2 linked regions of the Homo sapiens genome follow. The protein of the gene in region 2 interacts with the protein of the main gene of each other region in a pairwise test. Each region holds a gene or a part of one and is shown on either strand. Other genes may lie near its edges.

What was found.
Region 1: the proteins of RNF139 (region 2) and UBE2U interact in a two-hybrid assay, tested with the Homo sapiens proteins (one large-scale study listed by BioGRID and IntAct).

Annotation. Positions count from the first base shown.
Region 1 is NC_000001.11:64,206,505-64,210,332, forward strand, and holds part of UBE2U (ubiquitin-conjugating enzyme E2 U), read left to right. Parts: intron 1-259; coding exon 260-352; intron 353-3,828. UniProt on the Homo sapiens protein: Catalyzes the covalent attachment of ubiquitin to other proteins.
Region 2 is NC_000008.11:124,477,572-124,481,399, forward strand, and holds part of RNF139 (E3 ubiquitin-protein ligase RNF139), read left to right. Parts: intron 1-3,828. UniProt on the Homo sapiens protein: E3-ubiquitin ligase; acts as a negative regulator of cell proliferation through mechanisms involving G2/M arrest and cell death.

The sequences.
Region 1 (3,828 bases), on a different chromosome or scaffold from region 2:
ACAGAGGGGGTGGATGTTAGGGCGACAAAGGTAGTAGATGGAAAGGACTAGTGGGAAAGAGACTGAAAACGTATGATTATAATAGATTGTGAAGTGTCTGTTATACTATCCAGAGGAGTCGGTGCACTCTATGAATCAATTTACTTAAAAATAAAACTGTGGAAAGACTAAACCATAGGGAGAAACTCCAGTGTTAATCAGGTTACAGTTAATCAATAAACATGACACTTTAGTAAAAATGTTTATTTCTATATTATAGGTTTAGTCTTCCAACTGACAATACATTTTACATCGGAGTACAACTATGCTCCTCCAGTTGTGAAATTTATAACAATTCCGTTTCATCCAAATGGTAAGAACTAAATGACATTTTTATCATTAGAGGCTTTGTCCCTATTATCCTTGTTTCTTATAATAATCATGTTTCTTTTTAAGAACTTTATTATGATTCTAAAAGTAAGAACTCTCATTGGGGAAAATATGAAAAGGCTGGAAAAAATTAGCAATCACCTTAAATCCTAATGCAAAGAGAAAATACTGTCAACATTTTGCCAAATTTATTTTCCTTTTTTCTAAGTATGAATTTTTTCTATACAGTTGAGGTATTATGCATGAAGTTTTGCCTCTAGGTTTTTGATTTTATTTATTTTATGGTGTTTTTTTTGAGACAGAGTCTCTCTCTGTCGCCCAGGCTGGAATGCAGTGGTGTGATCTCGGCTCACTGCAACCTTCACCTCCCAGGTTCAATCGATTCTCCTGCCTCAGCCTCCCCAGTAGCTGGGACTACAGGCATGCGCCACCACACCTGGCTAGTTTTTGTATTTTTAGCAGAGATGGGGTTTCACCATGTTGGCCAAGCTGGTCTTGAACTCCTGACCATCCGCCCACTTTGGCCTCCCAAAATGCTGGGATTACAGCTGTGAACCACTGCGCCTGGCCTAGGTTTTTAATTTTAAAACTATATGTCTTTTTTCTGCATTATTAAACAGTCTTCAAAAGATCATCTTAAATGGTTCAACAATACACTTAACCATTTCTGTATTGTTCAATATTTTAGTTGGATCTAATTTTTCATTATTATAAAAAAACGATGCACTGGACAGATTAACTTTTTTTAAATAAAAGGTAAGTTAGATTGCTACTTAAAGTTATACACAAAACCAATTCCTGAAGGATCAAAAATCTAAAAATTTTAAATGCTGGAAAAGAAGGAAATCTAATAGAATTTTTATGGGCTTGGTGAGGAAGACGTTTCTCAGCATGATAAAACCCAGTAACTGTATGGAAAATATGACACATTAAACTGCAAAACCTGTTAAAACTTCTCTACGGCCCAGGACATTATACTCAGAGGTCAAAGACACTGACTTTTGCAAACTGAGGGAAAATATTTGCAATGCATGTAACAGAATATGTATACCATATGAAGAACACTTGTCAATCAATATAAAAAGAACATAAAGCAATTAAAAAATGGAGAAAGGCTATAAACAAACACTGGACAGAATAAACAACAAAAATAAACATAAAAAGATTATCAATCTCACTACTAAGAAAATAAAAGCAAATTAAAACAAAAAGTATTGTTATTTATCACATATTCATAAAATGTCAAAATATAACATACATATTTAGTAGGCATGGGCAGACATTGTTCCTCTGATATAATCATGACCTTTTGAGGAAGTAGTGTGACAGTTTCTAATCAGGTATAAAATGCATATATCCCTAAATTCCCGTAATACCATGTTTATAAACTATTCTGTAGAAATATTAGCACAAGTGTGCAAGAGTGTGTTATATTTAAAGACGTTTATTCCCACCAGGCTCAGTGGCTTATGCCTGTTATCCCAGTACTTTGGGTGGTCAGTGGGGAGTATTGCTTGGGTCCAGGAGTTTGACACCAGCCTGGGCAACATAGTGAGACCTGTCTCTACAGAAAATAAAAAAATTAGCTTGGCATGGTAGCATGTGCCTGTAGTCCCAGCTACTTCAGGTCTGAGGTAGGAGGATTGCTTGAGCCCAGGAGGTCGAGGCTGCAGTGAGCCATGATTGTGCCATTGCACTCCAGCCTGGGCAACAGAACAAGACGCTGTCTCAAAAAAAAAAAAAAAAAAAAAAAAAAAAAAAAAAAAAAAAAAAGATGTTTATTCCCAACAGCAATGTTAGAAATAGGAAAAATGGAAATAACTTCAATCTCCATTAACACAGGAATTTTAAGTGAAATATCCTACAGTTACGTGTATTGCTTCTAAACAGAACGAGGAAGGTCTACGAACCTTTTAGGTCTAGATCATTGCTATATCCTTAGAATCTTCACTGCGTGGCATATAGTAGGTATTCAGATATTTTTTGAATAAATATTTGTGTCCAGAAATATGTTGAAAATACATTGTTAAGTGAAAAAATACATTGAACAATAAAATGTAAAATATATTCCCATTTAATAAACACACACATATGGGTGTGTATACATATATGTGTTTGTGTGTATATTTGTATAGACCAACTGGTAATATTGGTCTTGAATAGTAGAATTAGTAGGCAGGGGAACATTCATATTTTACATTAGATTTTTTATGTTTTTTTCCCAAGTACATTATTTTATTGTAATTAAAACCTATTTTTGGTATCTATAACACAAAATTAATTACATACGTGTGCCTTTATTTGTTTAAAATAGTTAGAATTATTGGATTAAATTCAATGGGGGGAGGTACTCTTATCCCCTAGTCCTCATCCCTCCCACTTCCATAAAGTAGAGGGAACTTTAGTCTCTAGGAGGGGGAAGGTATAGGAAAACTTGTGACTGCTCTTTTTTTTTCCCCCATCACTCCTCCTAGAAGTCACTTATCTGATTAGGGAGATGAAGGAAAGAATTGAGCATATGTGGCCCAGAACTTGCTCAACACTCTCTCCTTCTGACCATACTGGGTATAGTCTCTTTTGCTCCAGGCAGGAAACTTAGGCAGGCCTTCGGTTTGGGAGTTAAGTTTAAATCAGGGGGACTTTTGTGGAGCCTGATTAAAGCCATTCATCAAGTGCGTTCTCCATTTCAGTCTTATGTGCAATGAAGCTGATGTTTTTACTTCCACCTTTCAATACTTTGATCTATTTTATAATTACATATGAACTTGAGGGGAGAGAAGGGTTATTTACTAGCTTTCAACCCCCGCCCCCGCCCGCCCCGCAAAAGATGGCTATGTACAGTTTTAAGTCTTTATATAAAAAGCCAAATTGCCTTTCGGTGGTATTTGTACTCCTACCAAAAAGTACATATAAAGTTCTTATTTTAGCACCTTCCAATTCTGGCCATTGAAACTTTGAAGAAAATTTTTTTGCCAATTTGGTAAGAGTCTTGCTATTATTTTAATAAGCACTTCTTTGAATACTTGAGAAGTAAACATTTCCCACCTTTGTTGATTCTTATTTTGTGACTCGTATGATACAATTGACAGTGCTATCACATTGTCCTAGATGTTGCAAATATTTCCTCTAATTTGTCATTAATTTTCAACTTTGTTTATGCTGTTTTTTCACATCTGGGATTTAGAGATTTTTATGATTTAAAATAAATTTATATTTAAGATCTATTAATCTTGTCCTTTGAGGCTTTTGCAGTTGTCTTTCATCTTAGATGATCCTTTCCCAAAAGAAAATCAAATAGTCATTTTAAGTTTCTTCTAGTCATTCTACAGTTTTATTTTTCTTATTTAACTCTATTATTTTTTCAAACACTAAATTACTTAACTGTGTTAGGGCATATGCCAAGCTCCTGTACATCTTTCCAACTTAACATAACAGGACAACGCTGGAGGGAGGTTGTGC
Region 2 (3,828 bases):
ATGGTGCTACAACTGTACCTTCATTTGATATCAAACTAATTTGAGATTTCAACCGGTTAGAAAATAAAGCAACTCATTTTGGAGATCCAAATAAAATTCTATGACAATATATGGAATATTGAAGAACATAAAGCTGTGTTTTAAGGGATGTTAAATACTAAACGAAACTCAACCCAGAGCAGCATAATGCTGAGTTAGCAAATTTAAATCCAAGGCAGAAAATGCAAGCCTAGGAGTTTGTTTTAATAGTATTACTAATATGGTGATAATTCATTGAGGTGGGAAAAGGCTTTAAACATAACAGAAGACCCAGAAGTTCCAAGGAAAAATCTGAAAAATTTCAGTACATAAAAATAAAAAGCTTTTTTATGGCAAAGCTTAAAAAAGAATCCTTAAATGACAAACTGAGATAAAATACTTCTATCATAAGTGATTCACGTTCCAGTAAGAGTTTTACCCTGCCAGGGAAGCTGAGGCAGGAGAATCGCTTGAACCAGGGAGTTGCAGGTTGCAGTGAGCCGAGATCGCTCCACTGCACTCCAGCCTGGGGATAGAGTGAGACTCTGTCTAAAAAAAAAAACAAAACAAAACAAGAAAAAACTTATACTCCCTTAGGAAAATGCCTAAGACAAGCAATTCACAATAAACAAAATGCAGATGTTCAATAAGCAAGAGAAAAAGTATTTAGCCCTTCCTGCAGTAGCTTGATTTTATGGGGGAAAAAAAAAAGTACCTAGCCTTGTTTATAATTAAATACTGTCAAGACCGCTTACGGTGGCTCACGCCTATAATCCCAGCACTTTGGGAGGCTGAGGCAGGCAGATTGCTTGAGGCCAGGAGTTTGACACCAGCTTGGCCAAATGGCACAACCCGTGTCTACCAAAAAATTAGCCGGGTGCAGTGACTCCTGCCCATAGTCCCAGCTACTGTGGAGGCTGAGGCACGAGAATCTCTCGAATCGGGGAGGTGGAGGTTGCAGTGAGCCAAGATCGCGCCACTGCACTCCAGCCTGGGCGATAGAGCGAGACTGTCTCAAAAAAAAAAAAAAAGTCAAAAAAAATTTATCAGATTGGTGAAGAGTTCAAAGTTTTATTAGTTTTGCAAAGGTATTTACCTTTTTGAAATAGGTAAATTTATACAATTTTGGAAGACTTTTTTTTTTTTTTGAGACGGAGTTTGCTCTTGTTGCCCAGGCCGGAGTGCAATGGCGTGATCTCGGCTCACCACAACTTCCACCTCCCAGGTTCGGGCGATTCTCCGGCCTCAGCCTCCCGAGTAGCTAGGATGATTACAGGCAAGCGCCACCACCCCCGGCAAATTTTTTTCTATTTTTAGTAGAGACAGGTTTTCTCCATGTTGGTCAGGCTGTTCTCCAACTCCCGACCTCAGGTGATCTGCCCACATCGTCCTCCCAGAGTGCTGGGATTACAGGCGTGAGCCACCGTGCCTGGCCCGGAAGACTCTTAATTTCAGTGTAAAACCATTTGGCAGTATCAACTGTCATTTACAACTGACTTCTCAGTGTTTTGTTTTGTTTTTGAGACAGTCTCACTCTGTCACCAAGGCTGGAGTGCAGTGGCGTGATCTCAGCACACTGCAACCTCCACCTCCCAGGTTCAAGCGATTCTCCTGCCTCAGCCTCCCAAGTAGCTGGGATGCCTGGCTCGTACAACTTTTGACTCACAATTTCAATTCTAGGGAATTGGCCTAGAGAGATAGTTTGCTTAAGGACTATGGGCAAGCATTACTGGAAATAACAAAGCAACAAACTTAATCTAAATATGTATTGATACAAATCTGTTCATTGTATTAGGTCTAGCCATGCAATAAAGTTCTTGAAAGAAATGAGATAGCTATTTTTGGTGCCGAAAAAGACTTCAGAAAACCTCTGAAGTGAAAAAACAAAGCCGAAGTAATTATCACTGGCAGAGGAATAGACAGAGATTTCTCAACAGTGGCAGTATTGACATTTTGGACAGGATAATTCTTTGTTTGCGGATGGGAGCTCTCCTGTGCACTGTAAGATTTTTAGCAGCATCACTATCCCCTGCCCATTAGATGCCAGTAGCACCTTGCACCCCCACACCCCAGTGTGACAGCCAAAACTGTCCCTGGATATTGCCAAATCATGGTTGAGAACCATTGGGATAGACAAATAGATTAGTACTTAGCCTTATTTATAATTACATAGCCCAGAAACAGACACCAATGTATATATAGAAATAATGTGTTTCAGAGATAGAATTGAAGTACATTGAGGTAAATATGGACTGTTGAATTAATGATCATTTTGTTACACCTTTGGAAATAAATTATACTAGATGTCTACCTTATGTCAATATATAGACAGTCACTTCTAGGTTGAGCAGTGTAGTGAGACCCTGTCTCTGCAAAAATAAATATTTAAAATAATAGCCATACTTGGTGGTGGGTGCCTGTAGTCCTATCTTACTCAGGAGGCTGGGGTGAGAAGATCGCTTGGGCCTAGGAGTTCAAGGCTGCAAGTGAGCTATGATTGCATAACTGCACTCCAGCCTGGCTGGGTGACAGAGCAAGACCCTGTCTCTTAAAAAAAAAAAATAGTCATTTCTAAGTGTATTCTTACCTAGATGTATATGTAAATATGAAATGCAGAACTTTAAATTTTTAGAAAAAAATATGGAATATTTTATTTTTCCAATCTTAGATTAAGGAAGAAATCCTTAAAAATATATAAAAGCAAATACATAATGAAGATTGATAAACCGAATGATATTGAGGTTAAAAACCTATGTTAATCAAAAGATCGCACCACTGCACTCCAGCCTGGGCAACAGAGCGAGACTCCATCACTAAAAAAAAAAAAAAAAAAAAAAGGAAGTCAAATCTTGGGTAAGGGGGAACTACTGTACTTACATTTACCCATTTATTATAAAGGCAATTACAAAGGACACAGATGAATTAACCCGATGGAAGGAGATGTACAAGGTGAGACAAAGAAGGAGAGAAGAGGAGAAGGGGCGTGGAGCTTCAGTGTTCAGCTATCTGAGAGCTCACAGAACTCAGTCCTTTTGGGCTTCTATGGAAGTTCATTAAATAGGCAAGATTGATTAGATCACTAGTCATTGGTTTATGGACTCAAGTTTCAGCTTCTTTCTTCCCAGAAGTGGCGGCTGGGGGTAGGAATCAAAGTTATAACCCTTAATCACTGGGCTGATTCCCCTGGCTACCTAGCCCCCATCCTGAAGCTATCTAGGGGCCCCCAGGCACCAGTCATCTGATTATTGTACAAAACAGTCATCACTCCAGAGATTCCAAGGATTTTAGAAGCTATGTCAGAAAATGGGACAAAGACCAAATATTAATATTTTTTTTATGATATCACAGATGGGAAAGACAAACTAGAAAAACTTGCTTTAACTCTTCATTTAACACCTCTCTGTAGGGTTTGGCTTTTTAAAATCCATGTTCATATATTTTTGATAAAAGCATACTTATTATAAGTTTAGTTTAAAAGCAAAAGTTTAATTTTGTGTTAATACTTAGAATACCAGGTTTTTTTTCAACCTAAAATGAGAATCCAATAGAAATGTTTTCTTTATAATTTATCAAGTATACCAACAGATTAACAACATTTCAAGACACTTTGTTGTAAACTTCATTGCGGAAGGCTCCCTTGGGAGTAAGGTAGTAGTAACATTTATTTCTGTGCTTTTCCATATTTATTCTGTCAGGTATTGAAATGTTTTTCCACAGGTTGCTTTTTGTTTTAGAGGTATTTCGGGTACTTGGAGAATTGTAAATATTATGTTTTGTACCCTGATTTTTAGTCATAAGTTTCCAAAAGAG